Regions from separate parts of the Homo sapiens genome. Here regions 1 and 2 are each linked to region 3. The links come from fine-mapping of genetic effects on gene expression. A gene starts in region 3. Each other region holds a variant in brackets. All regions are shown on one strand. Distances are from middle to middle.

Region 1 (10,506 bases), 150 kb after region 3:
ACTCATAATAAATATTTTGCCAGGCAGTGGCAAACATTTTTACACCAGCCTATGAGTCTGTTGTGTAAATCACTGACACACCATGTGTTTAGAGATTAGACTGCACCAATTGTTAAGTTGCATAAATATCCTGAGCTGTGTCTCTGTATATTATTAAATAAGTGTATCCCTAAAGAATTGAAAATGAAGTATATTCAGAATGTACCCAAGTGAAACTCCTGTTAACAAAATAGGAAATAGGTGTTCAAATGAAAAATGAAAAATAAATATACTCCTGAGTAAAACTTGTATAACAGTACAAGTGCAAAAGATTAGTTTTGCCAATATTTAGGTGTATCTGTCATTATCTGAGGTATTGAGAAATAAATATTTATTTGTAAAACACTTAAATACTGATTATTTTAGTATAAAATAAAATGACTATTTAAATCCATCCTCACTAGATAATTCAGAACACCAGAAACACAGAAAAGTTCAGAACGCAGAAAAAATGATTCTAGGAAAAAGCAAAATAATACTACTACTACTAATAATAACCTCATTGCTCGGTTTCTCATGTCCAAAACAACGGACAGACTTAGGCGTCCCATTACTAGGAATGGCAAGTATCTGGCATTCTCTTTCGTTCTAGGATCTGCCCTAGATAGCTATACCTTTTCACCTTATATTTTAGTGGTTGCTTTCAGAATTTCAATGTATACATTAATTAGTTTTCTCTTGCTGCTGTAACAGATTTTTGCATAGTGGCTCAAAGCAACACAACTTTATTATTTTATAGGGCAATATGTCAAAAATACGATGCAAGTCTCACTGAGCTAAAATTGAGATCTTGGCGTGGTTGCATTCCTTCTGGAAGCTCAGAGGATAATCATTTTCCTTGATCTTCCCATCTTTTCCTCTTCCTCCATCTTTAAAGCCAGCAATAGTAGCAGGTTGAGTCCTTCTCAGCAGCATCACCTTAGCCTCCTGCTGCCTCCTTCTTCCATCTTTTAAGAACACTTCTGACTACACCGAGCCCACTTAGATAATCCAGAATAATTTTTCTGTTAGAAATGTTTTAACATTTCTAAAACAGAATAATGTTTTAACATTAAAACATATTTTAATGTTAGCTGATTAGCAACCTTAATTCCATCTGCAACCTTCATTCCTGCTTGCCATGTAACATAGCATATCCACATGGACATCTTTGGAGGGAGGGCATTATTCTGTCTGCCACAATACCCTCAATTTTTCACAATCTACTTGGAGTTTATATTGTATACCTCATGCAATATGTAGAAGCTTTGCCACAGAAAAGGCCCATTTACCCCACATTGCTGTTCTTTATGCTGTAGTTGACATATACATTCCATACATTATAAACATCACAAGACAGTGTCTTAATTTTTGCTTTACACATTGGTATGCTTATTTTTCAAATAATAGAAAAAATGATCTTTTATATACCTATTTGCCTTTTCTAATGTTCTTCATTCCTTACTGATTTGAGTTTTTTTTCCAGTATCATTTCCTTTAAACCAGAAGAATCCTCTTTAGCATGTCTTGTAGTACATGTCTGTTGGCAACAAATATTTTTAGTGTTCTTTTATCTCATAATGTCTTTGTTTTACCTTCATTTTTTTCTTTTTATAAGACATGGTCTCACTCTGTCACCCAGGCTGGAGTGCAGTGGCATGATCCCGGCTCACTGCAGCCTCAACCTCCCAGACTCAGGTGATTCTCCCACCTCAGCCTCCAACGTAGCTGAGACTATAGGCATGTACCACTTATCTCCATTCTTGAAGAATGTTTTCATTCAGTATAAAATTCTGGATTGACAGTTTTTTGTCTTTCGTAGTCAGCATTTTAAAGATACTGCCCCATTCCCTTCTGGGCTCTATATTTCTGATGAAATGTCAGCAATAATTTTAATTGGTGTTCTCCTGCATATAATATGCCATTTTTCTCAGACTGCTTTTAAGATTTTTTTTTCTTTTTTGTTGTTTTAGAAGTTTGACTATAATGTGTTGTGGCATAGTTTTCTTCATTGTTATTCTGTTTGAGGTTTTCCTGAGCTTCTTGATTCCGTAAATTTATGTATTTCAACAATTTGGAGGAAACTTTATGCCATTATCTCCTCAAATATTCTTTTCCTGACTCATTCTCTTTCTGTTATTCTTCTGAGACTTCAAATACACCTTTTGATATTATCCCATGGATACTTAAGGTTCTATTAGCTTATTTTAATATTTCCTTCTCTTTTTTCCTTAGATTGGATAATTTCTCTTGATTTGTGTTTGGCTTGTCTTACTCTTTCCTCTGTCATATCTATTCTGCTGTTAAGCTCATTCAGTAATATTTTTATATTTTAGGTATTTTATTTTCAGTTCTGAACTTTCCACTTTGCTGTTTTATAATTTCTATTTCTCTGCTGAGATTTCTTATGTTTTCATTTATTATTACCATATTTTTTCATTTGCCATCTTGAGCTTAGTTATAATAACTAAAGTCTATGTCTGCTAAATCCATTATCTGGGTCATCTCAGGGTCAGTCTTCATTGATTGTCTTTTCTCTTGAGAATGGATCACATTTTCCTGCTTCTTTCTAGAAGGAGAAATTTTGCATTGTATCTTGGATGCTGTAAGTTGTTGTGGAGACTCTAGATTCTGTTATAATCATTTCAAGTTTTGTCTGTTTGTGTGTATGTGCGTGTGTGCGTTTTGTAGTTTAAAGTCAGTATACTTAAAATCTCAGTTCAGTACTTCTCTAAATCCCCTTTACCTAGACTGTCTGCAGTCTGCCCTACGTATGCATGGCTCAGGATTCTGCAGAGAATTTGGGAATCTTTTTTCTGACTCCCTCTTTTATGGAATTCTCTCTTCATTTTCTAGCAGTTGTGGTTGCCCTGAATACTGTCATATATTTTTGTAGGCCATTATTATTCATATTTTCAGAGTTCTTGCCACTCCACAATGTACCACAGTGGTAGCCTGCCCTCAGGCTACTAGCTATATACAAGCAAACAAATAAGTAAATAAGAAACTCATTGGCCTGGTCCTTTCTTCCAAGTTTTTACTGTCTTCCAGAATCTGCCTGTTTTTATTCATTTTTATAATTAAAGGTTAGTTTTTCATTGTGTTTTCTTCAAAGTTATAGCTGTTCTTTTCGGGGGGGTTGGTCTATATGTTAGTTCCCTAGGGCTTCCATAAGAAGGTACCCCTTACTGGGTAGCTTAAGCAACAGAAATTTATTTTCTCACAACTCTAGAGGCTAGAAGACTGAGAGCAACACATAGAGAGGGTTGGATTTTCCTGAGACCTCTCTCCTTGGCTTGAATATAACTCTCTTCTTTCTGCATTTACACCTGGTCTTCCCTCTATATTTCATTTTAACTTAATTACCTCTTTAAAGACTTTATCTCTAAATACTGTCACACTCTAAGGTTCTGGGGTTAGGACTTCAACATACTAATCTTGGGTAGAGGACACAATTGAGACCATAACAGCTCATAAAGAAATGTTTCAGCCACACCACAGCTGACAGAGATTCAGACAGGCTACTCCCTTTCAGTATACATTCTAGACCCACGTTGCTAATAAACTCATGTTGGTGTGTAAAATACAACCTATGTCCATTCCTCTTCCTACTATTAAGTAGCCAATAGCATTTAAAATGTAGACTTAAAATCTGTATGTTTCTAATGTAGAAATAGTCCTCTATTCTAAAACTATTTTCTGATATCGTCATCTATTAGCTGTTCACTCTGTGAAAAGCTTCAGTATAAATCTCTAAATCAATATAATTCACTGAGAATTATATCATTAAATTTTTGAAAATTGTTCTTGAAACTGATTTTCTCCCTTATAACTCCCTGTAAAATGTTGTGAATATGAAGTATTGTCATGGAAATAAGTTACTATCTTCTGGGCAGCCTCACTTCTGATGTTTTTGTTTTCCACCTACTTGTGTTATTACACACTTACTCTAGGTCGCCAGATCAAAGAGTGTGCGTTTGGTTATATAAACATGTATTCAGTCTATGATATTTTACCACCGTCCCCACCAGACTTCTCTCTTAGTCTCCTATATCAAACATGATAAAAAAACACTTTAAGAACTCAGACGTACACAAGAGAAGCAGCTATGAGGAAAATAAACTCACAAAGGACAATTTAAAAATAAAAATGTTTTTTTCCAGCTTCCTAGTTTAAAAATACCATGCTCGTTGAGACTTGTAACGATTAAAAATAGCCCTTGAGTAGAGAGAGTGCGTGGTTTTTTTTAAGATCTGTTTATCTGAAATTTTATGTTAAAAATATTTAAGAATCAACATTCATATTTTAGCAGTAATGTCTTTTATGTCCTCAGAATGACCTCCCCTCCCACCACATACACAAAGTACTAACCACTTCCTCAAGATACTATGTAG[G/C]TTCAGAGTTCAACTTTATTTTGAAAAAGAATAACTCAGCCTAGAAGTTTTCTTATACAAAACTTGACTAGATACTCAAAGCCAGTGCTCTCTTCATGAGCTACCCCGTATTGGCAAATGTATGGTAAAGAAACCTTTGCTAATGAACAGTTGGTATGAAATAGAAGTGCAAATTCAAGTGAGTAGTTTTAAAATTAATGTACTTATAATTTTAGGATTCAAAATTCTCCTCTAACAGAAGGTACCTCATCTTTAATGAATTTATTCGTCTCCTTACTTGTAATTCCCGTATATTTTAGTACTTAGAATTTTTTTGTACCTTGAAGGGTAAGGTGATTGCCAAAGCATTATTCCATCTAAGAAACTATGCAGGAAGTCACACCAACAACACATAACAAATTAAGATATGTTTTAAACAATATTTTCTCTTGGCTTTTGATTTGCAGCAAGGAGAAAAAAAAGTTTTCATGTTTCTCTTAGTCTGTAAAAATACAAACACTCAAAAACAACATATTACATTCTAACAAAGTTTTATCAGGTCTTGAGGCTCTTAAAAAGGACATGCAAAATGCCTATGTGTACGCCTTGGCTCCTAAAATGGAGTGGGGCACTGAGGCACATTCCCACGGTTCCTCTGAGTCACTTCGCTGTATCTGTCATAGGTTGGCAGGGATAATTCCTAGCAAGCAATTCAAACCTCCATATACAGTTACAAGAGGAGAGAGATAGACAATTTTTAATATAGGCCAATTCTGGATAATGACCAAGATCACATTTCAACTGGTAGATTTCGCAAGTGTCTTATCTGACAAAACAGCCTATGATGTTATGATCTAGTGAGTAATAATTCCTTATGAGGTCGGATGCGGTGTCCAGAAAAAGCAACATATGATTAAAGTTTGTGAACCCACTTATCTCACTGTAGTTGCAAGTAGATACAGCAATATTTCAAATTGTTTTAAGCTGTGTAATGTCCTCAATGCAAATATGTGCATTGGGATGGGACGGCAGGAAGAAGGAAAGAACTAATAATATTTTTGCACCTGGTACTGTAATAAGCTCTTCACATCCTTTATCTCATTTGATTCTTCCCCAAAAGGCAACTATTTTTATAATCTGCATTTTAAAGACAGATCTTTCTGGCTCTGGAGTCTGGACACTTCATATAATACATGCTTTTTCTGTAAAATAGAAAATTCTCTTATTCATTTACTACCATTCAACCTATGCAAAGATGCATTACTTTGTTGATTTCCTTGATTTCCTACAGGTCTATATGTTGACATAGAGATATGCATATCTGGCCTGCAAATGGCATTGTGCTCTTGGCTTTGGCAATATCACGTGGCTCATACTATACCTTCCAGCCATATCCAGCCTAAGATACAAGGAATAAGAAAGGTGGACAAGTCTGGAAGGTGGTCCTAGACAAGTGCTTTCAGCTCTCTTTAGACCATGAAACTCCTGCAAATTATTGGGATCACTCTGAACTATTCTAGGAGAGGTGCAATAAGTATCTCATTGCTTTCATCAATTTATTTATGCACACACATATGCATACATGCCTTTATTCTTCATTAAACAAATATTGTTTGTGTACCTATACGTATTAGGAATTGTTAGGCTTTGGTAATGCTGAGGTGAATAAGTAGAGTTCTTGCCCTTGTGTAACTAGCAGTCTAGTGGGAGAGATTATAAAAAATAATGGCTCAAATTAAAGTACTAGTGCAGTCTTTGAAAAGCATTATGAAGAAGGATATATGGAGCAATGTAACAATGCCAGAGGGAATCTGAACTGACTGAATAGGAGGAAAAAAGAAGTAAAGGAGCGGTGAGGGATTACAAATAGTAGACAAAGGGAGCATCATGTGGGGTGATACTTTGATGGCAGAAATCAGTGTGGCTGGAGCACAGAGAGCAAGGCTAGTGGGTGAGCTAACCCTAAAGAGTAGTAGGCAGAGGTGAGATTGGGCGTGTCCTCTTTAAGAATTTTAGTTTTTATCCTAAATGCTAAAAGCAGCTTTTAAAAGATTTTATGCAGCTATGTGTCATGATTAAATGTGTGATTTTGAAAAGATCAGTTTAGATGTTGTGTTTAGAATAGAGTGGGGCAAGTAACTGAAATATGTCAGATAAGAAATAGGCCCAGCACAGTGGCTTACGCCTGTAATCCCAGCGCTTTGGGAGGCCAAGGTGGATGGATCACCTGAGGTCAGGAGTTCGAGACCAGTCTTGTGAACGTGGTGAAACCCTGTCTCTACTGAAAATACAAAAATTAGCCGGGCATGGTGGCACATGACTGTAGTCCCAGCCGCTCAGGAGGCTGAGGCAGGAGAATCGTTTGAACCCAGGAGGCAGAGGTTGCAGTGAGCCAAGATCACACCACTGCACTCCAGCCTGGGCGACAGAGTAAGACAAAAAAAAGAGAGAGAAAAGAAAGGAAAGAGAGAGAGCGAAAGAGAAAAAAAAGAAAAGAAAAGAAAGGGAGAAAGGGAGGGAGGGAAGGAAGGAAGGAGGGAAGGAAGGAAGGAAGCAAGCTTGGGTGCAGTAATAAAAGCAGAGAGAGAAATGGAGGATTCAGGAAAAGTCGTGGAGTAAAGGAAGGGAATGCATAGGGATAAACCTAGGCAATTCCTATATAAAAGTTGAAATAGAAACAAAGAATGCACAGATTCCTCCTAAAAATATAGCCACTTCTTGGTCACTATGTGTATGACCTCTTCTTCCTGGACTCACCTCTCTTATAGCAGAGAACATTGATTTATTAATCCTTAGGATCAGTAAGTGATTCCTCTACTTGACCCTCTAGAATAAAAACTAAACTGCAAAACAAAACATCCATGGGTTTTTTGAGGGAGGTGGGAGTCCACCTTCTCCTTTTCTTTTCCATTATGTATGTTCAGATCACTATACCTGATCCTATGTAAAATTACTCTTCTTCCTCAGTTTTTTAAGACTGAAACGTTCTTTTAGTCCCTTTATAAAACACCAAGTAAGACATGGAAGACAGACAGTGGAAACAGCTATCTTTCTTTGAAGGGACTATGTTGGTTATTCAGATAATGAGAAACTGTCTACAACAATCCCAGGGACTCCATAAGATTAAAAGAAAGAAAAGAAAAGTTGTTAAATAAAGAGCCAGTACTTTATAACTGAAAGTTTAGCTTTTATTTCAGGCAATCTTTAGAGGTTGATTAAACCAGGATTACTTGTTTAATGCCTTTTATTATCTAGATAAAAGAATGTAAAATGGTACGTGGTCATGTAAGTAATACAGTTCCTTTGCAAATTCTGTAACTACTGACTTGGAATTGTAGTTATATAATCTTTAAATCATTTTGGGGTTGACTTAATCCCAAAACTCTTCTCCCTCACCCAGGAAGGCCCAATCAATACCACATCTATAAGGAGCTAACTCTGCTTCTGCTGCTAGTTTTGTGTCCCTGGAAATTCACCTGGCTTCCATGGTCGTCAGATTCCTGGTTGAAAAAACAAAAGGTTGAAAAATGAAATGCTTGATGATTTTTGAAGTGCCTTATACCTCTAACTTTCTAAGAACAACAAATCTTAGTTAGCCTGACATAGAGGGTGCTTGTGTGAGCATGCATGTGTTTTGTCTGTTCAACTTTTTTCAGTCATGTGCATCTTCAATGTTGGAAGTAAACCTCATGCATTTCTTTCTCTTTTGAGGAACAAATACAAATGCACAATAAGCAACTCATTTGCAGTGTTAAGATCTCAGGCACATGAGATATTTGCTAATATGCAGGTTGTATCTTTGGCCCCCCTGACATCTATTTCAGCCTCTCACCCTTCTCTAGACATGCTTTTTCCAGGTCATTAAGTTTTACAAAGCTCCTTTGGCAGAACCTCTCTCAAGCCAATCCATTAGTGAAATGCTCCCACATAAAAACTGACCAATTCTCCCATGCTCTTGAGGATAATATTAGCAAGGGGCAAAGTAATCTGATTTCCTATTCAAAAATATGCTATACAGAAACGTTACTGACTGATAAGCTGAACTACTTCAGTCCTATCTACTTTTCAAGATAGGAACTATTAACACCAGTGATCGCTCACTGATAGCGTGACAATGAAAAAATGCATGGGACTAGGTATCATTGCCTAGGCAGGGCTATCTGCTTCCAAAGTCCATCCTAGGAACAGAAATCGGTGACTGGACATCCCATTTCTAAAGTCTTGGAGATCTCCGTTATTGAATCTTCTTTTAGCACTATAAAAGGGGCTCTATAAGTGGGAGAGAGGAATGCAAATCCCCTGTACTATGTAGCATTGGGTAATAGTGAAAAGCAGTGTGGGGATCATCAGTTGACTGCCCACTTGTCAATCTTTGGAGAGAAAGGCAATCAAGGACATAACCACAATCCCTATCTTCTGGAATAGACCTGTTGAGGGTTCTTTTGAAATTTCTAAAGATATCCATCATCTATGACTTTAACAACACTTGGACTGCCTTTTCCAATATCGTAGCCACTAGCCACATGAGGCATTTAAGCACTCAAAATATAGTTTGTCAAAATGGAAATATGCTGAAAGCGTAAAATGCACACGAGATTTCAAAGGCTTGGTACAAAAAAGAAAGGAAAAGAATGCAAAATATCTCATTAATAAATGTTTATATTGCTTATATCCTACTATGAAATAATTTTAGATATGTTAAATGCCATTATTAAAATTAATTATTAAAATTAATTTTACCTATTTCTACTTTCTTTTCTGAAATATGTCTATTAGAACATTTTAAATTGCAAATATGGCTCACGTTTTATTTTGGGGGACAGCACTGTACCAGACTTATACATTAAATGTCTATAGTTTACTGGTCAAGGCAAACAAGCCAAGTATTAAAATAAAAAATTATGTAAAGAAATATAGAAAGATATTCACTTTAAATCTCTTTACAGATTACTGTATTTTTTTCTTAGATATCTTTGCTATATCTTACAGAGACTTATATCTTGAATGGTAGTGAAAATAATTAAAGTGAACTTCAAATTTATTCACATTTTGGTGATTCATTTATTCTGGGAGCACAGGGAATAAAACTTTAAATGTAACAGAATTCAGGAATCTTTAAACTGGAATCATGGATTTGTTTATTCCATTATTAATTAATAAATTACTTCACATTGAATACAGTTAAGATCTAATTGTCACAATATTTGTATCATACTTAACAATTTTCAAAGTACTATCATTGCTTATACCATAAACCCTTAGAAAATGTTGCAGAGAAGTTCTGTTTGAAATAACCATTTCTATGATCATCTATTTAATATGATGTTAAAATAATTCATGGAATATATTATCTTTAAACTCTGTTCCAAAAAGTTATTTGTGAATTTGTACAATGCAAACAAAAGGAAGCTTCAAAATGGGCAGCAATAATAGACCTCTAGTATAAAAACACAAATATTTTAAGCAAAAGGTATGTAGTACTATTTTATCTAAACACATTCTGCGTGACCTTTTAGATCATTGACTTAAGAATTAATATATTCACAACAGTAGACTTTGTTTTGTGGTTACTTTGTGAAGAAGATTTTTTAATGAAGTTTCATTTTAAAGTACAAAATCAGCCTTTGCCTGGTATAAGAGAGAATAACTAATTACAAATTATACAGCATCATATAGGCCCCAGAAGCTTATTTCTCAATTACCTTCATATAAAAGCAATAGTCTATCTTTCCATTCAAAAAATAATTGCTTTCATTCACTTTTTTCCCTTTCCTAATTGAAAATCTGTAACTGATAAAATCCATGGCCAGATATCTCTAGTCATACAGATTTTATACCTTAGAGACAAGACAGATTCAAGACCCATAAAGAAGATCATCAGCTAACATTTTTTTGAACAGAATAAGGGACAAATAATGTGTTTGGAAGTAGAAAGTATGTATTTAGTAATGTATTTTGCCAGGAAACAGTCATGTGTTACTTTATATTAATATTCCTAAGCTGTGTCTTTCTCTTTGATGTGAAAACCAATAATTTCCATACCAAACTTACAAAATGCATTCAACCATAGCTGAAAAATAGGAATGAGATAATCTCATGAAGTACTTTTTCTGTG
Region 2 (10,506 bases), 53 kb after region 3:
GGGTGAAGGATATGAACAGACACTTCTCAAAAGAAGACATTTATGCAGCCAAAAAACACATGAAAAAATGCTCATCATCACTGGCCATCAGAGAAATGCAAATCAAAACCACAATGAGATACCATCTCACACCAGTTAGAATGGCAATCATTAAAAAGTCAGGAAACAACAGGTGCTGGAGAGGATGTGGAGAAATAGGAACACTTTTACACTGTTGGTGGGACTGTAAACTAGTTCAACAATTGTGGAAGTCAGTGTGGCGATTCCTCAGGGATCTAGAACTAGAAATACCATTTGACCCAGCCATCCCATTACTGGGTATATACCCAAAGTACTATAAATCATGCTGCTATAAAGACACATGCACACGTATGTTCATTGCGGCATTATTCACAATAGCAAAGACTTGGAACCAACCCAAATGTCCAACAATGATAGACTGGATGAAGAAAATGTGGCACATATACACCATGGAATACTATGCAGCCATAAAAAATGATGAGTTCATGTCCTTTGTAGGGACATGGATGAAATTGGAAATCATCATTCTTAGTAAACTATCACAAGAACAAAAAACCAAACACCGCATATTCTCACTCATAGATGGGAATCAAACAATGAGATCACATGGACACAGGAGGGGGAACATCACACTGTGGGGACTGTTGTGGGGTGGGGGGGGAGGGATAGCATTAGGAGATATACCTAATGCTAGATGACGAGTTAGTGGGTGCAGCGCACCAGCATGGCACATGTATACATATGTAACTAACCTGCACATTGTGCACATGTACCCTAAAACTTAAAGTATAATAATAAAAAAAAAACCATTCTGATTAATTTGAGATGGTATCTCATTGTGGTTTTGATTTGCATTTCTCTAATAATCTGTGATGTTGAGCCTTCTTTCACATGCCTATTGGCTTTGTGTATGTCTTCTTTGGAAAAGTGTCTGTTCATGTCCACTTTTTAATGGGGTTGTTTGTTTATTTCTTATAAATTTAAGTTACTTATATATTCTGGATATTAGACCTTTGTCAAATGCATTTTTTTCAAATATTTTCCCCATTCTGTAGGTTGTCTGTTTAATCTGTTAATAGTTTCTTTTCCTGTGTGAAGTTCTTTGGTTTAATTAGGTTTCATTTGTCAATTTTGTTTTTATTGTAATTGCTTTTGGCATCTTCATCACGAAATCTTTGCCAGGGCCTGTGTCTGGAATGGTATTTCCTAGGTTATCTTCCAGGATTTTTACAGTTTTGGGTTTTACATTTAAGTCTTTAATCTATCTTGAGCTGATTTTTGTATATTGTGTAAGGAAAGACCCAGTTTCAATCTTCCACGTATGACTAGCCAGTTATCCCAGCATCATTTATTGAATAGAGAGACCTTTCCCCATTGCTTGCTGTTGTTAACTTTATCAATGACCAGATGAATGTAGGCATGTGGCTTTATTTCTAGGCTTTCTATTTTGTTCCATTGCTCTATGTGTCTCTTTTTCTACCAGTTCAATGCTGTTTCAGTTACTGTAGCCTTGTAGTATAGTTTGAAGTCAAGCAATGTGATGCCTTCAGTTTTGTTCTTTTTGCTTAGGATTTCCTTGGCTATTTGGACTCTTCTTTGGTTCTATATGAATTTTAAAATAGTTTTTCTAATTCTTTGAAGAATGTCATTGGTAATTTGATAGGAATAGCATTGAATCTATAAATTGCTTTGGGCAGTATCCTATTTTAACAATATTGATTATTCCTATTCATGAACTTGGACTATTTTTCCATTCATTTGTGTCATCTCTGATTTCTTTGAGCAGTGTTTTGTAATTCTTATTGTAGAGATCTTTCACCTCCCTGGTCAGCTGTATTCCTAGGTATTTGTGTGTGTGTGTGTGTGTGTGTGTGTGTGTGTGTGTGTGTGGCTATTGTGAATGTGATTTCATTCATGATTTGGCTTTCAGTTTGGATGTTGCTTGTGTATAGGAATGCTATTGGTTTTTGTACAATAATTTAATATCCCAAAACTTTGCTGAAGTTGTTTATCAGATCAAGGAGCTTTTGTGCAGAGACTATGGGGCTTTCTACATATAGAATCATGTAATCTGCAAACAGAAATAGTTTGACTTTATCTTTTCCTATTTGGATTCATTTTATTTCTTTCTGTTGCCTGATTGCTTGGGCTAGGTCTTCCAGTACTATCTTCAGTAGGAGTGGTGAGAGAGGACATCCTTGTTTTGTTGCAGTTTTTAAGGGGAATGCTTCTAGCTTTTGCCCATTCAGTATAATGTTTGCTGTGAGTCTTTTTAGATGGCTGTTATTATTTTGAAGTATGTTCCTTCAATGCCTAGTTTGTTGAGGGTTCTGACTATGAAAGATGTTGAATTTCTTTGAAAGCCTTTTCTTCATCTATGGAGATAATCATGTGATTTTTATTTTTAGTTCCATTTATGTGGTGAAACACATTTGTTGATTTGAGCATGTTGAACCAATCTTGCATTGCAGGGATAAAGCCTACTTGATCATTTTGGATTTACGTTTTTATGTGCTGCTGGATTCAGTTGGCTAGTATTTGTTGACAATTTTTGCATCTATATTTGACAAGGATATTGAACTGAAGTTTTATTTTTTGGTTGTGTCTCCGTAAGGTTTGGGTGTCAGGAGGATTCTGGCGTCATAGAATGAGTAAGGGGGAGTCTCCTCTTCAATTATTGGGAATAGTTTTAGTAGGAATGGTACTATTTCTTTATATCTCTGGTAGAATTTCACTGTGAATTCATCATATCCTAGACATGTTCTGGTTGGTAGGATTTTTATTACTGATTCAATTTCCAAACTTGTTATTGGTCTGTTCAGGAATTCCATATCCTCCTGGTTCAATCTTGGGAGGTTGCGTGTTTCCAGGAATGTATCCATTTCTTCTAGGGTTTCTAGTTTGTATGCATAAAGCTGTTTAAAATAGACTCTAAGGAATTTTTTGTATTTCTGTGAGGTTGGTGGTAATATATCCTTTGTCATTTCTGATTGAGTTTATTTGGATCTTCTCTCTTTTATATCTTTGTCTAGCTAGTAGTCTATCAATCTTATTTTTTCTTTAAAAAACAAACTCCTGGATTTGTTGATCTTTTGTGTGGTTTTTTACATCTCAATTTCCTTTGGTTCATCTCTGATTTTGGTTGTTTATTGCCTTCTACTAGATTTGGGGTTGGCTGGCCCTTGTTTTTTTAGTTCCTCTAGGTGTGATGTTAGGTTGTTAATTTGACATCTTTTTTTGTTTTTTTTTTTAACTTTCATTTTAAGTTCAGAGGTACATGTGCAGGTTTACTATATAGGTAAATTTGTGTAATGAGGGTTCGTTGTACAGATTATTTTGTCACCCAAGTATTAAGCCTAGTACCCATTCATTGTTTTCCTGATCCTCTCCCTCTTCCAATCTTCCCCAATTTGATAGGTCTTAGTATGTGTTGTTCCCCTCTATGTGCCCATGTGTTCTTATCATTTGGCTCCCACTTATAAATGAGAACATGCAAAATTTGATTTCCTGTTCCTGCGTTAGTTTGCTAAAGATAATGGCCTCCAGCCCCATCCATGTCCCTGCAAGGGACATGATCTTGTTCTTTTCATGGCTACATAGTATTCCATGGTGTATCACATTTTCTTTATTTGGTCTATCATTGATGGGCATTTATGTTGATGCCATGTCTTTCCTATTATACATAGTGCTACAATAAACATACACATTCATGTGTCTTTTATTAGAATAATATGTATTCCTTTGAGTATATACCCAGTAATGGGATTGTTGGGTCAAATGGTGTTTCTGTCTTTAGATCTTTGAGAAATAGCCACACTGCTTTCCACAATGCATGAACTAATTTGCACTCCAACCAACAGTATATAAGCATTTCTTTTTCTCTACAACCTCACCAGCATCTGTAATTTTTTTGCTTTTTAATAATAGCCATTCTGATGGTGTAAGATGGTATCTCATTGTAGTTTTCATTTGCATGTCTCTAATGATCAGTGATATTAAGCTTTTTTTCATATGCCTCCTGGCCACAATTATGTCTTTTTTGAAAAGTGTCTGTTCATAACCTTTTCCTATTATTAATGGTTTTTAAAAATTTTTTTTCATATGCTTGTTGGCCACATGTATTTTTTTTAATTGTACTTTAAGTTTTGGGATATATATGCAGAACGTGCAGGTTTGTTACATAGGTATACGCGTGCCATGGTGGTTTGCTGCACCTATCAACCCATCATCTACATTAGGTATTTCTCCTAATGCTATCTCTTCAATGGCCCCCAATCCCCTGACAGGCCCTGGTATGTGATGTTCCCCTCCCTGTGTCCATGTGTTCTCATTGTTCAACTCCCACTTATGAGTGAGAACAAACAATGTTTGGTTTTCTGTTCCTGCATTAGTTTACTGAGAATGATGGTTTCCAGCTTCATCCATGTCCCTGCAAAGAACATGAACTCACCCCTTTTTATGGCTGCATAGTATTCCATGGTGTATATGTGCCATATTTTCTTTATCCAGTCTATCATTGATGAGCATTTGGGTTGGTTCCAAGTATTTGCTATTGTGAATAGTGCTGCAATAAACATACATGTGCATGTATCTTTATAGTAGTATGATTTATAATCCTTTGGGTGTATACCCAGTAATGGGATTGCGGGGTCAAATGGTATTTCTGGTTCTAGATCTTTGAGGAATCATCACACTGTCTTCCCCAATGGTTGAACTAATTTACACTCCCACCAACAGTGTAAAAGCATTCCTATTTCTCCACATCCTCTCCAGCATCTGTCATTTCCTGACTTTTTAATGATTGCCATTCTAACTGGTGTGAGATGGTATCTCATTGTAATTTTGATTTGCATTTTTTTAAAGTGCCTGTTTACATCCTTTGTGCACTTTTGGGGTTTTTATTTTTTTTCTTGAAATTTATTTAAGTTTCTTACAGATGCTGGATACTAGACTTTGTCTAGTATTCTCCCATTCTGTAGGCTGTCTGTTCACGCTATTAATCATTTTCTTTGCTATGCAAAAG[C/T]GCTTTAGTTTAATTAGGTCCCATTTGTCCATTTTTGCTTTTGTTGCAGTTGCTTTTGACATCTTCATCATAAAATCTTTGTACGTTCCTGTGTCCTAAATAGTATTACCTAGGTTGTCTTCCAGGGTTTTTACAGTTTTGATTATTACATTTAAGCCTTTAATTCATCATGAGTTGATTTTTCTATATGGTGTAAGGAAGGGGTCCAATGTCAATCTTCTGCATATGGCTAGCCTATTATCCTAGTGCCATTTATCAAATAGGACATTGTTCCCAATTGCATGTTTTTGTCTGATTTGTCAAAGATTGAATAGTTGTAGGTGTGCAGCCTTTTTTTTTGGTTCTTTATTCTGTTCCATTGTTCTATGTGTCTGCTTTTGTAGCAGTACTATGCTGTTTTGATTACCGTAACCCTGTAATATAGTTTGAAGTTAGGTAGCATGATGCCTCCTGCTTTGTTTGTTTGTTTGTTTGTTTTCCTTAGTATTGCCTTGGTTATTCATGCTCTTTTTTGGTCCCATGTAAATTTTAAAATAGTTCTCTCTACTACCCTGAAGAATCTCAATGGTAGTATAATAGGAATAGCATTGAATCTATAACTTGCTTTGGGCAATATCACCATTTTTAGGATATTGATTCTTCCTATCCATGAACATGGAATGTTTTTCCATTTGTTTGTGTCATCTGTGATTCCTTTGAGCTTTGTGCTTTGTAGCTCTCCTTGTAGAGGTCTTTCACCTCCATGGTTAGCTATATTCCTAGATATTTTATTCTTTTTGTGGCAATTGTGAATGGGATTACATTCCTGATTTTGCTCTCAGCTTGACTGTTGTTTGTTTATGGGAATGTTAGCAAATTTTGCCCATTGATTTTGTATCCTGAGACTTTGCGGAAGTTGTGTATCAGCTTAAGAAGCTTTTGTGCTGAGACTATGGAGTTTTCTAGTTAAAGGCTTATGTTGTCTGCAAACAGGGATAGTTTGACTTCCTCTCTTCCTATTTGGATGCCTTTTATTTCTTTCTCTTGCCTGATTGCTCTGTCCAGGATTTCCAATACTGTGTTGAATAAGAGTGGTGAGAGAAGGCATCCTTGTCTTGTGCTGGTTTTCAAGGGGCATGTTTCCAGCTTGTGCCATTTAGTAATATGTGGGTTATGGGTTTGTCAGAGATGGCTCTTTAATTTCGAGGTATTTTCCTTCAATATCTAGTTTATTGAGCATATTTAATATGAATGAGTGTTTAATTGTATTGAAAGCCTTTTCTGTGTCTATTGAGATAATTATGTGGTTTTTGTCTTTAGTTCTGTTTATGTGATGGATCATATTTATTGATTTGCATATGTACCAATCTTGCATCCTAGGGATAAAGCCTACTTGATCATGGTGGATTAGCTTTTTTTATGTGCTACTTTATTCTGTTTGTGACTATTTTCTTGAGGATTTTTGCATCAATGTTCTTCAAGGATATTGGCCTGAAATTGTTGTTGCTGTATTTCTGCCAGATTTTGGTATCAGGATGATGCTGGCCTCATTGAATGAGTTAGGGAGGAGTCTTTTCTCCTCAAATATTTGGAATAGTTTCAGCAGAAATGGCAGCATATGTGCCATGTCACGATGAGAAGAATGTATATCCTGTTGTTTTGGCTGGAGAGTTCTGTAGATATCTATCAGGTCCACTTGAATCAGTGCTGAGTTTGGGTCCTGAATATCTTTGTTAATTTTCTGCCTCAGTGATCTGTCTAATATTGTCAGTGTGTGTATCTAAGTCTCTTTGAAGGTCTCCAAGAACTTGCTTTATGAGTCTGGGTGCTCCTGTGTTGTGTGACTATTTAGGATAGTTAGCTCTTTTTGTTGACTTGAATCCTTTACTATTATATAATGCCCTTCCATGAATTCGACATATTTCTAACGTTTTGATGTGTGCTTTTAGTGCTGTAAATGTCTCTCTTAACAGTGTTTTATCTGTGTCCCAGAAATTCTGATATGTTGTATTTTGTTCTCATTAATTTCAAAGAATTTCTTGATTTCTGCCTTAATTTTACTGTTTATCCAAAAGTCATTCTTGAGTAGGTTGTTTAACTTGTATGTAATTGTATGATTTTATTACTATTGTTTTATATTTTTATTGTGCTGTGTTCTGAGAGTGTGTTTGGTATGATTTGATTTTTTTTTAATTTACTGAGATTGTTTCAGGTACAATTGGATTGTCAGTTTTAGAGTATGTATCACATGCATATGAGAAGAATGTATATTCTTTTGTTTTAGGGTAGAAAGTTCTGTAGATGTTTGTCAGGCCTGTTTGATCAACTGTCAAGTTCAGGTTCTGAATATCTTTGTTAGTTTTGTGCCTCAATGACCTGTCTAATACTGCCAGTGGGGTCTTGAAGTCTTCCACTTTTATTGCGTGGTTATCTAAGTCTCTTTGTAGGTTTCTAAGAACTCGTTTTATGAATCTGAGTGCCTCTTGTTAGGTGCATATATATTTAGAATAGTTAGGTCTTCTTATTGAATACATCCTTTACTATCATGTAATGCCCTTCTTTGTCTTTTTTGATCACTGTCGTTTAAAGTCTGTTTTGTCTGAAATTGAACTATCAATCCTTGCTTTTTTCAGTTTTCTGTTTGTTTGGTAGATTTTTCTCCATCTCTTTACTTAGAACCTATGGGTGTCATTGCATGTGAGATGGGTATCTTGTAGACAGCATACAGCTGGGTCTTTCTTCTTTATCTAACTTACCCCTCTTTGCCTTTTGAGTGAGACATTTAGCCTATTTAGTTTCAAGGTTAATATTGATATGTGCAGGTTTGATTGTATCAGTGTGTCATTAGCTAGTTATTATGTATAGTTTGAGCTCTTAACATTTAGATCTTTGATCCTTTTTGAATTGAATTTTCCATATTGTATGAAGTTTGGGTCCAACTTCATTCTTTTTCATGTTGATATATAGTCATCTCAGCACTGTTTATTGAAAGATCTTTTTTCCATTAAATTTTTCTTGACACCTTTGTAAAAAAAATCAACTGATCATAAGCATAAGGGTTTATTTTCTGACCCTCAAATCAATTTTATTGACCTTTATGTCTAATATTCCAGCACTACACATTCTTGATTACTGTAGTTTCTTAGTAAGTTTAGAAATCAGATAATGCAAGTCCTCCAAATTTTTTTCTGTTTTATCAGATTGTTTTGGCTTGTCTGGTTCCCTTGGATTAACTATACATTTGAGAATCAGCTTGTCAATTTCTTTTAAAAAGTAAGTTGGAATTTTGATAAGGATGGCATTAAATTTATAGATCAATTTGATGATTAGTGTCATTTTTACATTAAGATTTCCAATACATGAATACAAAATGCCATTCCATTTATTTGATCTCCTATAATTTCCTTCAATGACATTCTGCAGTTTTTGTGTACAAGTCATTCACTACAAGTGAAAGAATGCAAGACTACAAGTCTTTCACTTAAACATATACCTAAATATTTTAATCTTTTTGATGTTGTTTTACATGGAACTGTTTCTATAGTTTTGTTTTGGAATTATTCCTTATTTTATAAACATATAATTAATTTTATGTTCATGTTATATCCTATAAATTTACTGAATCCATTCATTAGTCTTTAATAGAATTTTTATGGATTACTTATTTTTGAAGATCATGTCATCTTGAAATAGATATAGTTATATTCATTTCTTTTCTACTTTGATACCTTTTTTTTCCCTTACCTAATTGCCCTGGTCAAAACCTCTAGTATATTGTTGACAAGAAATGGTGAGAGTGGGCATCTTTGTCTTGTTCACCATCTCAGGGATGAAATGCTCAGTATTTTCCAGTAAGTATGATTTTAGCTGTGTGTTTTCCTAGATGTCCTTTACAAGATTGAGGAAATCCCATTTGATTCCTAGATTTTGAGGATTTCTATAGTGAAATGATGTTGAATTTCTTTGAGAAATGTTGTTTCTGTGTCTATTGTTGTGATGATGTGGGTTTTTTTATTGTATTGATTTGTTGTATTATATTGGTTTTTCATCTGTTGAACTAAATTTGCAATCTAGAGTAACTCCACTAGGTCATAATATACAGTCATTTTTTAATACTGCTGGATTTGGTGTCTTTTTATTATCCTTAGGACTTTTTTTATTTCTATTCATAGATATACTGGCTTGTAGATTTTTCTTGTAATGTCTTTGTATTTGGTGTCAGGATAATTCTGCCTTCATAGAATGAGTTGTAAAGTGTTCCTTCTGTTTTTTGCTAGAGTTTGTGAATGATTGAAACATTTGGTAGAATTTATCTATGAAGACTTTTCTTGGTGAAGTTATTTTAAAAAATAATTTACTAATTTGATCTCTTTGTTACAAGTCTATGAAGAATTTCTATTTCTTCTTCAGTCTGTTTGGTAGCTTGTTTATTCCTAAAAATTTGTCTACTCATCTAGTTCATCTAATTTGTTGGCATACAGTTGTACACTTTTAATGTTTTTTAATTCTGTAACATCAGTAGTAGTGTTCCCTGTTTAAGTCTTAATTTTCATAATTTGCATCTTCTCTTTTTTTTCCCCTTGGTCTGTTTAGCTAAAGTTTCATCAGTTATATGGATTGCTTAAAATAATTGGTTTTGTTGATTCTTCCTATTGTTTCTCTGTTCTCTATTTTACTTATATCCACTGTAATATATATTATTTCTTCTGCTTGCTTTGATTTAATATTTTTACATTTATAATTTCTTAAGATAGAAGTTTATGATATTAATTTAAGATATATATCAAACAGGCATTCACAAATATAAATTTCCTTGTAAGCACTGCTTTTACATCCCATGAATTTTGGTATGCTATATTTTCACTTGTATTTATCTCATAAAATTAACTAATTTCTCTTATGATTTCTTCTTTGATTTATTGATTATTTTAGAGAATATCATTTAATTTCTAACTATTTGTGACTTTCCCAGATTTCTTCTTGTTATTGATTTATAATTTTATGCCTTTGTGGTTGGTTAGCCTTTGTTTGGAAAGATATTTTGGGTGGGTATAAAATTCTAGATTGACTTTTTTTTCAATATTTTAGAGTTGCTGTTCCACTGCTTTTTTCACTAGTGTTTTTCCAATGAGAAGTTAGTTGTCGTTGCTTATCTTTGTTTCTCTTTACGTGGCATGTCATTTTTTGTTTTCCAAGGGAAGGAGCAATTGTTGGCTGATTTAAGATTTGTTTCTTTGTCTATGATTTTAAGAAATTTGATTATCACATGACTTGCTGTAGTTTTCTTTATGTTTCTCGTGCTTGGGATTTATTAAACTTCTTGTATTTGTTAGTTAACAATTATTATCAAATTTGGAAAACATCTTTTTCATTATTTTTCAAATATTTTTAACCTTCTCTCTCTCAAGAGGCACTAATTAAATATATATTAGGGTGACTGACTGTGTTCCACAGCTTAATAATGCTCTTTTAATTTTTTCTCT
Region 3 (10,506 bases):
GTTAGACATTGGGAATTGACAAAGGTGCTGCCCAACCCCAGCCTTCCAGCTGTAGTGATTAGTAACTGGCCAACACCTAAAAGGACAGAGAAGGAAACAAATGCAATTTGGGGCCAATTCATAAAAATAAAGGAAGGTATCAGAGGTAAAGAATAGATAGCTTGCAAAGAGGCATTGGCAGAAGAATGTGGTTTATAATAAAGACATGATATCATCAATCAGTATGAAAATGAAGAATTAATTCATTATTTTCCAGTTGTAATAAACCGTACTGGTTTCCTATTTTGTAAAAGAGAAACAGTTAGATCATCACTAAATAATGCATGCTTAAGTTAGTTCCAAATATGTTGGAATTATATCTAATAATAATAATGAGGCAAAACTTACACATTGCGTATTTTGTTTTAATCACTTTTGTAAATGCTTTACCTACAAAAATGCTTTGGTCCTCATAACAAGCCTATGAGGTAGGAACAATTACTTCACTCTTTTACAGATGAGAAAACCAAGTCATGTGGAAGTTCAGTGATATTATCCAAGGTCACACAGCTTTTAAGTGTTCTTATAGCCATCTCAGACTTAATATGTCCGCACGTGAATTCCTAATCTTCTCCCTAAAACCAGTCCTAACTCCTATCTTCTCCATCTTACAATATCCTTTACTCAGAATCATCTGCGTGCTCAAGCCAAAAATCTCATAGCTATGCTTAACTCTTCTTATAGCCTGCATACAAACATTTTGGAAAATTCGGTTCAATCTATCTTCAGACTAGATCTTCAATCCACCTCTACTTTGCACAAATTGGTCAACACCGTATTTCCTGGTTTGTTTCAGTAGGTTCTTAACTGTTCTCCCTGCTTCCACCTTTGCTTCCCCAAGTCTATCCTCACTATAGCGGCAAGAAAAATACTTTACAACATAAATCAGCTCAGCCTACTCCTCAACCTGGAACACTGTTCACCAGGGAATCCCTACAGCCAGTTCTCTAACCTACAGATTGTTACTTAAATGTCTCCAGATTAAAGAAGACTCCCCTGACAACTGGTTAAAATTGCAACCCACCACCAATATCTGTCACCATCAGCATTTTTAGTCCCCATATCCTGTTCTTTTTTTTTTTTTTTTTTTTTTTTTTGGGACAAAGTCTCGCTATGTCGCCCAGGCTGGAGTACAGCGGCGCAATCTCGGCTCAGTGCAAGCTTCACCTCCCGGGTTCATGCCATTCTCCTGCCTCAGCCTCCAGAGTAGCTGGGATTACAGGCGCCCGCCACCACGCCCGGCTAATTTTTCTGTATTTTTAGTAGAGACAGGGTTTCACGGTGTTAGCCAGGATGTTCTCGATTCCTGACCTCGTGATCCACCCACCTAGGCCTCCCAAAGTGCTGGATTACAGGCTTGAGCCACCGTGCCCAGCCCCCATACCCTGTTCTTTTAATTGCCTTCTAATATAGTATGTAATTAACTTATTTAATATATTTATTATTTTTGTCTGTCCTCTTCAAAATATCAGTTCAGCAACGGCAGTATCTTATCTGTTTTGCTCACAGATGTATGGGAAGCACCTAGTACAATGCTTTGCACTCCATAAAATATTTAAACATAGACTCTGTAAATATTCGTTGAATGAATGTTGAGACTGGGATTTTAAATTTAGATAACATGATTCCAGGGTCTATGAAGTTAATGACTAAGCAATTGCCTTAAACATGAAATCATTTTTTAAAAGCTTGAAAAAATAAGTGAATATGAGAGGAAAAAGATATTAGGAGCATTAAAGCACTAAAATAAATTATCAGGGAAAATTTGATAGTTTAATGTTTGTAAGAATGAAACATCTTTAAAATAAATAACATTACCTCCAAATTTAACAAAGAATTAAAAACTGAGAAATATCTTCCATAAATATGGGAATGTACTAATGTTCAAATATTAAGAGTTATTATAAACCAAATGGGGGAATAGCAACAAAACCCCGTAAGTATTGAAAAAGTATGTAAACTCACAAAAAGAAACAAGTAGCAAAGTACACAAAATATAAAAGTCACCGTTTCTAGTTAACACAACTCATTGAGATACCATTTTCTTTCAAGTAGGAAATCAGTCAAAATAAAAAAAGAAAAGAAGAAAAAGGACCTTAAGGATGCCCCGTATTGATGAGGGTTCAATGCAACAAGCTCCCTTATAACATACAGCATGTACTTTAAAATATTTCTGCATCATGACACAGGGCTGTATTACTAGGAATCTATTCTGAGGACATAATTAGAGATACAGACAAAAATGCTTGTGTAACGGCTTTCAACAAAAGTATACCAGTAGGGAATAATAGTATAAAAACAATTACACTTTCAAGACCTGAAAAATACTTAAGTATTTCATAGAAATAAGTAGTGATTCATTAAAATTAACATTTTTGAATAACATTTTGATAACTTAGAAAATGTTAATTTTTTTAAAAAATAGGCAGGTAAAAGCTGTGTGTATAGCATGGCCATGTAGGTTAGATTGAAGCCTCATTACATTGATGACAGAACAGAGGATTCTAAAACCTGGAGCAGGAGCCAAATCCAAAAGTTAAGCTGAGGTGGAGCCCCTTCAGTGAGTTTGGGTGAGCCCTTGTGCAGTAGGAGGTAAAGGCCTGGTCACAAAGGTGGAAGACAGGTCACATGGGCATCAAAGACAATGATAACCTATTTCTTAATTTATCTTAGCATCAGAAAGGCCAATATCATATACTTCATGATGGCATCATACACAGATGCATTACTGGCACATAAAAATGCTGATGGTGACACATGTGCATGAATAAATTCTCCAAATACTTGTCTCTGTGACTTTGTCTCTATGTCTGAGGTATAACAGCTTTGAAACAGTGTTTCATACATGTTACATGTCAGCTCCTAAACAGAACAATAACCTTTAGGAGTAAAGTGAAAATTGTATTCCTAAAACAATTGTGATCCCAATTCTACAATATACTTTAGCTATAAATAGACATTACAGAGAATTGTTTTACTGCTATCATTTCTTGGGTCACTTGTCTCTTGCTAATTTGGAAACATGAGTGCTTTCTTGTTCTGTTTAATAAGGTACTAAAATAAATTCTAGATAGCATATAACATTTTATTGTAAATTTCTTTGACTTCAATGAATTGCATTTTATGTGGAGTGCAGGTTCGTAGAATGCTGCCAAACTCATATGTTTAAATTGTTAAAAATAAACTCTTTGGATTGCTAATGACTGTAGTATATGCAATTCACCAGATTGTTTAAACAGATTTCAAATAATTTTCCTGTAATTGCTAATCATTTTGTAGGAGACCTGAGACCAGCAATCAATAATCACATGAAACTGTTGAAAAGGAGGCTCAGTGATCAATACAAATTCTTCTTTCCGTGGGAATACAGCCTGCTCAGATGGTTGACATATATAGTGCTCTCCTTGGTGTTCTCTTCTGTTATGTATTTATTGCAGTTTCATAGGCACCTTTTTATGGAAAGAAATAACAAATTAGAAAAAATTGGTATAATATCTCTTTGCTGACATCATGACAGAGATAACATTTGCTACAAAGAACAAATCCTTAGAGGGCAGGAGCATCTAACTTGGTACAGATGCTAAGGTTGCAAAGTAAAGTTCATCACTTCTAAACAATGGACAAGTTTGTCACTGATCAGCTTTTCTCTTGCATGTATTTTAATATGCATTATAAAGACCTATACTCATTTCAGTATGTGGAATTCTATCTACCACGGGTTGATCTCAAAGATATAAACTCAAACACAGTATGTAGAATTTTGTTTTTCAGGCTAAGAAGAAACATTGTCAATAAATGTCACAAAAATACTTACAGTTCCATTAAATAAAATAGATTTCCATATATATGTTTACAGTCTCCCCTCCCTTGTTAGAAAGTGGACTTGAATTTATTATAAAGTTATTACCTTGTCTACTGATAGATACATTTTGCATATTTTTAAAAGCCTTCATTTAATGTTAAGAAAAGTAAAGAACTGTTTAAACATGTCAATATATTCTTCTTGTAGTAAAGAGTAAAAAGAGATTCAAGGAAGGAGAAAAGCCTTTTGTCGTTCTCTCCTTTGTTTACTGCAGTAGCATTGTAGAAACCAGGTTTATCTCAATGTATCTTAGTATTTTGGGAAGGACTTAGTATCTCAGAAATTTAGAATAGGGGTCTAGCTGAGCTGGGAACAAACCCATAGAGGAGCAGTTAGGCAGGGAGAAAGATAAATTAACAAATAAGAAAAGTGACTTAAAAAAAAAAAGCAGCATGCACAGTTACCCCAGCGTGATCTCTGGTAATATCCTCTTTACTCATGTGAAAACTATTTACAAAAACCTCAACTCATGTGAACTCTGAAGTGGGTAGGAAAGATAAAAAAGGAAATTCTTTAATTTTGTGCTTTAGAGTCTGAATATGGATGCCAGTTTGTCAGTTTATATTCCTTGGGAATATTCCATGGGAAGAAACTGGTCCGCCTTGCAGTCGGCACAGCACAGCTTCCCAGGTGTAACAACTTGGTTGGGATAGGAGAAAACGGTTGCTCCTAAGCTTTTGCGCAGACTGGAAGCTGAATCAGGCGTCTGCTGGGATACAATCAGAGACCAGCAGCTAACCTCAGGGCTTTCAGAAAATAACGGCAATCAGGTAGAAACAGAGTCTCGAGGAGGGTAATTGCCAGCTAGGATTCCTCAAGGGCTCCACTCTCTATCTTACACGTGAACTCTATCTTTCTCTGGGTCATGGGGTCACAACCAATTAAGACTTTCCGAGTGACAAGCTGGGAATCACCGTGTTGCAGTTACAGCAAGTGTTATTGCCAACTTTGCCAATAGTGTGTGTGTGGTTTGTGTGTGTGTGTATTCCTCTCTGTACTTTAATCTTATTTTCATATGTGAACACTAAAGAGATTGGACAAGAGATAACGTTTATCTTGAAATCTCACTCTCAGTAAGATGGTACCAGTATCGCACACACACACACTCGCACACACGCACATCACCTGCAGCCGCAGAACCTTGCACCCTTGGGCTGGCTCGCGTCTTAGGGTTTTGGTATATTTGGTGGAAACTTGCTGATTTCCTATGCCTTTTGGAAAGACCAAGCTGGATGAGGGTGGTTGGAACGCTGTGGCTCATCATTTATTCATTGCGACTGTTTTGATTGTTGACACTAGTGGCAAGCCGCATCCTCCAGCTCTTGCAAGGGAAGTCTGACACCTTGAGGACAGGAGAGGGGGTGCCAGTCGCCCAGAGAAGCGGGAGTGGGAGAAGCTTTGAGAGTTGCAGGGGACTACTTTTTTCCGGTCGGGCGGCGGGCCTCATGGGTGCTTGTTTACCGGGCTGGGAGCAGGGCATTCAAAAGCTGGGTGTCGGAGCGCACTGAAGTCCAACACGCCTGCAGAGACCGCCCTAAGCCTGGAGGTGTGTCTGGCTTGCATCCAGAACCACAGGGTGGATTCTCGCCACCGACTTGGCTGGATGACGGCTGGCTGGTGGTGAGCTCCCCTGCCCACTGGCTGACCTCAAGCAGTTGGCCCCGGTAGGTGGAGGCTATTCGAGGGGGACAAGCTGGGGACGCAGCGTCAGCTCCTGCCAGCGCGCGGGTCTCCTCCACCTCCAAGCAGTGTGGTGCGTGGGACGCGCATCTTCCCGGACTATCCCTTTCCAGCGCGGTCTGTGCGGACCCCGAGCCCGGCAGCCACCAGGGACGGAGGGCGGGGTGCCTTTCTCTGGGCTCATCCGCTGTCAGCCGTGGGAACTCTTAACTTTATCCAGAGGGATCTGTGCAGGCGGGGGTGGGAGAGGTTCTCCTCCCCTGGCGGTTACCTCCCCCTCCCGGGCCGCCCCTCCCCCGCCTCCCATGGCTTCGCTTTCAGAGCATCCTCACTCCGCCCAGTTCGGTGCCAGCTGCGTGGGCTCCAGCTTCGATCGTTTTCCTTGGAATGCTCCAAAACTCAGCAGCGACTAAGGGAATTCCATTGGAATTTGCCGGGCGTGCTCTCACCCCGCACGGCACCCGCGCCGTCAGTCCTCGGATCCCATCACTTCAGCCCGAAGATTGCAACTTTGCAGGTAAAGAGGATGTCGCCTCGGGGCTCCGTTCGACCGGAGCTACACCTCGCCTTCTTTCTGGGATCTCGGTTAAGTTTCCTAAGCTGCCTGGGAAGCCGGCTCTCTTCTGGGAGGCGGACATCCCTGCGGGGTTAGGAGTTCAAAAGGTTCTGGCTATGTGGTTTCTCTTCAAGGCTCAGGAAAAAAACCTGTGAAGCTTTCGGTGCTTGACTCGGGCTGAGCAGGAGTTTGGGGGTGCTCCTCAGTCTTCCGCCGCACTCGGCTTTAAAGCAGGGGAGAGGGCGAGGAGTGAACCCCCGGTGTGACTTATATGGTAAACAAAGGAGCTGCAGCCACGCCGTGGTGCTGGGGAATGTGGCCGTTTTTAGCCTTTTATGCATTTGGGGAAAATGGAGATCTCGGGGGCATCTGGGTGCATATAAGTGAGGCCTTAGCTCTCCGGCACTTAAAGTAGGGTAACGAAGGAAGGAGAGTGATCAATGTTCTACCGATCGATTACATTCTGCGTCGTTTTCATTCTCTGTCAAGAAACAGAAACACTTTTATCCGTGTTGCCCGACCCAGGCTAGTGATTCCTAGTTCGCCTGGCAACCGAGATTCCAATGAAGCCAATGAAGCCAATGACCCGGTTTGCTACTTGGTTAAATCACTGGGATTCACTGCACAACTTGTTGTTCCAGCTGTGAAGTCAGCTGTCTTTTGCGACTAGAGACAAGAGAATACTGGAAAGGCATCGAGGGTTTAGGAGAGCTGAGGAAAGGGATCTCTTATCTTGTCTGCCTGCATTCACTATGGTGTATCCACTATGGTGTATCCCTGTTCACATGGCTTCTTAGAGAGGCCCTTCCCAGTGAAATTCCATAGCTATAAAATGCAGCAAGTTGCTTAAGGAGTAAGCACCAAGCCAAAGGAGTAGGAAGAGACAGAAGGAAGCTTTAGTTGTTTTATTAAAAAAAAAAATAGACAGACTTGTAAAACTTTTTCAGTTTTAATAAAACACCGCCTCTCAGAGCTCATATAATTTCTGCCTTTCCTTTCACAGTACATAATCACAGCACAAAGAATATTACAAATTCTTTAAGCAAAAGGTTTACTGGAGGGTTTTTTGGTTTGGGGTGTTTTTGGTAAAACTCTAAATTAGACATTGAGAGTAAGAGTGGGTGGAGATGTTAAAATGTTGAAATCTTCATCATTGTGTTGGGTTTGCTATTTAAAGTTACATTTGTAGCGCCTACTTTCTTATTCACCTGGACACTATTGTCCAGAAAACATCCTCCTTAAATGTTTAAGGGGGGAAAAAAAACAATAAGATCAATTTCAATTTACTTGCTCACTGGTCATTCTGAAAGATATATGAGTTGGAATAGATTTTCATTACTTATAACCTTTAAAATTTTGTAATGGTTATATTATTTATTTTTCTGTTGCACTTATTTCCAAAAGGTCAAGATAAAACTGCATTAAAAAGTCTATGACAGAGTTAAAGTTCTCTTTGAATTTTATAGCTATTTTAATTATTAGACCAGTAAGAGACCAAATAACTTTTCATATAAAATAACCTTAATCGATTCATACTGTGTATTAATAGGAAATAACAGAAGCAATCTTTATATTCTTTCTCATTAGAGGAAATTTTAATGTCTTATTCTATACACACATTTCAAACTAACTTTCTAACTTATGCTCCATGGAGAACTACAGCCATCTATAGGACTGAAAAGTTACCTGTTTCAACATCCTCATTTAGGAATCCAAAGCTAAATAAATATTAAAAAACAACAACTTATGTTTATAAACTATTACATCATTTTAATTGGTAAGGAATCTGGAAGTTAGATTGGCTATTTTTCAATATTTGGATGGCTGTGTCTATCAATATTTTTGTGAACTAGATGTTGTTATAAACTTCACTGTAATAACTAAGCTTAGAAAAATTGCTGTTTCTGAACTGTAGATGAAAGATAGAAACAATGACAATCATTATTTTTAATTTTTCTTTTATGATTTCAAAGTTATAAACATCTGATCATCTAGTCAAATGCTATCAGCATACCCTGTGATAAAGACAATTACATTTGTATTGAAATATAATAACCCCCTTTAAGATGCACTGATTTTAACCCCACTGAATTAAAACTACTTTTAAGTGTATATTTTTGGAAATAGTCTGTTTTATTTTTATACCTGCATGTTTAATTGCCAGGATTATTTATAGCAATTCAGATGATCAGCATTATATTTAGCAGCTGAAAACTGAAATAATTTCTCTTTTCTGATCGATGCATATATTGGAACAAAAATAAAAATATGCACACATTTGTTCAATAGTAAGTATTGTAACTATCAGTGCTTAAAGTTAGTATAGATATATAAGTAAAGATAGATATATGAGAAATACTAAGCAGTAGCTAGAACTATAAAATTAGGGACTGAATATTTTATGAAAATATGATTGTTGTATTTTTGAAAATAATGTCAGGTAAAGGGAAAATACAATAAACTATTAAATTTTCCTTTTTCCAAAACCATCATTGCCATATAGCTTATGAAATCAAATTCTAATGTGCACTTTGACTTTAGAAATTGAATTGCCTAGACTCAATTGGAACCAGTGTTATTGACCTCTTTAATGCCTATGGAAACCCCACCATGATTATTTGGTTCTCATTAAAAATGAGGTTGAGGAGACAGCTCAAAATAAAAACTTTGCCTTTTCACCTAATTTATACCCTATACCCGCCCCCCCCCACAAAAAATAAACATTAAAACTGGTTCGACTCAACCCAAATTTAATTGGGAATTTGTTTCTATCTAGTTATAATGAAGAGTTGATTTAGAACTATCTCACTACTCATGTTTTCTATTTCTCACCCTTCCAGAGGCATTGACCCCGCAATATTTTAAGAGATTTGAGAATATTTTGATCAGGGATATAATATCATGGCTGTGTCTTTTTAATCAGCACAAATATAGACCTAATTTTTGAGAACATTAGTATTACCAAAATAACTTTATGATGCAAAAAATGCATTTAGGGAAAGACACCATTTGTTTGGGAAACTGAAAATTAAAGGCATGCGCATTGAAAATGTATTAATTCAAAACCTTGTGGTTTCATGAACTATTTAGCAAATTAAGTGCTGTATTTAAATGTTTAAAAAATATAAGTGACCCTCCTGAAAGTTGTTTAATTTTAATAGAATAAGAAAGAAATAGTTTCAGAACTTGATCTACTATTGTAACTAAACTGTATGTAATATCCTATTAATATTAGTGTATGTTTTATCTCTCTTTTTAAAAATATAGCAGTGTCATAGAATAATGACTTCTTGAGAGACACTAAGTGACACATGGACACAGTGTTACATATAAAATTAGAAATGTTAATTAAAACATTAATTTAAAAATATGCCTTGATAGCTTTATCTAGCACACTGCATTCTTTTTGAGAAATGACAGTGAAATTAAATGAATCAGATATTCATTAATTATATTCTGTCTGTGGTTTGCTGTTAGATTTTGAAATATGTTGAAAAATTACTTCAAGCAAATACTATCAAGAGTTCAAATTTACCTGAAACAGGACCTATTGTGAAAAAAGAAAAGAGGGAAAATGGGCCAATATTTATGAGAATTTAATGTACACTTGGCACTATGTGAGAAACTTTGAAAAAGAAAGCTATTTTTCATTGTTATCTTAACATCTACCTTGAAACTGAAGTATTATCACATTTTAACAACCTGAGAAAGATGAAATTTATGAAAATCACAAAATTGCTTTGTGGGAAGGCAGGATTTGAAGTATATCAAATTTTACTATCAGGTACTACGTCTACCTGATGGTAAAGACTACACTCTTTTTACTTAATTCCTGTGGTTTCTAAAATACAATCAATAATCTTTTAACAAGTTTCATAAATTCATTTTTTCAGCTATTTGTTTCTTGAATTTTAAAAATATTATAACATTGGAATATAAACAACTGTCCCCATCATGGGGATAGAATTTGAAACAATAGTCTGTTAAAGTTCCATCAGTTTTGAAGCAGAGCAAGAGATAAGCTACTTATCTTGAGCAGGATGATCTCAAAATGACTTCCTTTCTTATTCTTAAATATAAATCTAATACATGTAAAAAGAAAAAAAAAGTTTGTTTTTATGAACAAAGTTCAAGATTATAATTTTTTAGAAATACTCATGAGCTTATAATTTATAAATAAAAAGTTATCATGCTAACCTTTTGACCATCTGTAAGCTGGTAATAAAATGTCTTTATTAAAAAAAAGGTCATGCTAGGCCATGTTAGGTTTATACTACATCTTATCAATGTTATGTAAAATTTCTAGACAAGTGTATTTGTTTTAGTTTTCCCTGAAATTTTAATTTTCCAATTATTTTAATGTCCCTTG

Direction of the effects. Alleles are on the strand shown, and positions count from the first base shown. SD is a standard deviation of normalised expression in the study named. Not every link is listed here.
For the expression in testis of the gene that starts at base 5,921 in region 3, allele C in region 2 goes with a lower level than allele T (large effect, 1.9 SD a copy in GTEx).

Evidence for each region.
Region 1: its variant is fine-mapped to the expression of TRPC4 in ovary (GTEx, PIP above 0.99). The same link has a PIP of 0.9 or more in thyroid.
Region 2: its variant is fine-mapped to the expression of TRPC4 in testis (GTEx, PIP 0.93).

What each region holds. Positions count from the first base shown.
Region 1 is chr13:37,710,475-37,720,980 of GRCh38, reverse strand. The region is part of intron 3 of TRPC4 (transient receptor potential cation channel subfamily C member 4); the gene reads left to right. Among named protein-coding and RNA genes, the nearest start is that of POSTN, 120 kb to the right of the region's middle. The variant G/C (reference allele first, on the strand shown) is at 4,413.
Region 2 is chr13:37,812,596-37,823,101 of GRCh38, reverse strand. The region is part of intron 1 of TRPC4 (transient receptor potential cation channel subfamily C member 4); the gene reads left to right. Among named protein-coding and RNA genes, the nearest start is that of TRPC4, 52 kb to the left of the region's middle. The variant C/T (reference allele first, on the strand shown) is at 5,045.
Region 3 is chr13:37,865,187-37,875,692 of GRCh38, reverse strand. TRPC4 (transient receptor potential cation channel subfamily C member 4) reads left to right here and starts at 5,921. Exons shown (of 11, transcript NM_016179.4): 1 at 5,921-6,098. LOC124903160 (a long non-coding RNA gene) reads right to left here and starts at 6,550. Exons shown (of 2, transcript XR_007063762.1): 1 at 5,027-6,550; 2 at 1,794-3,488.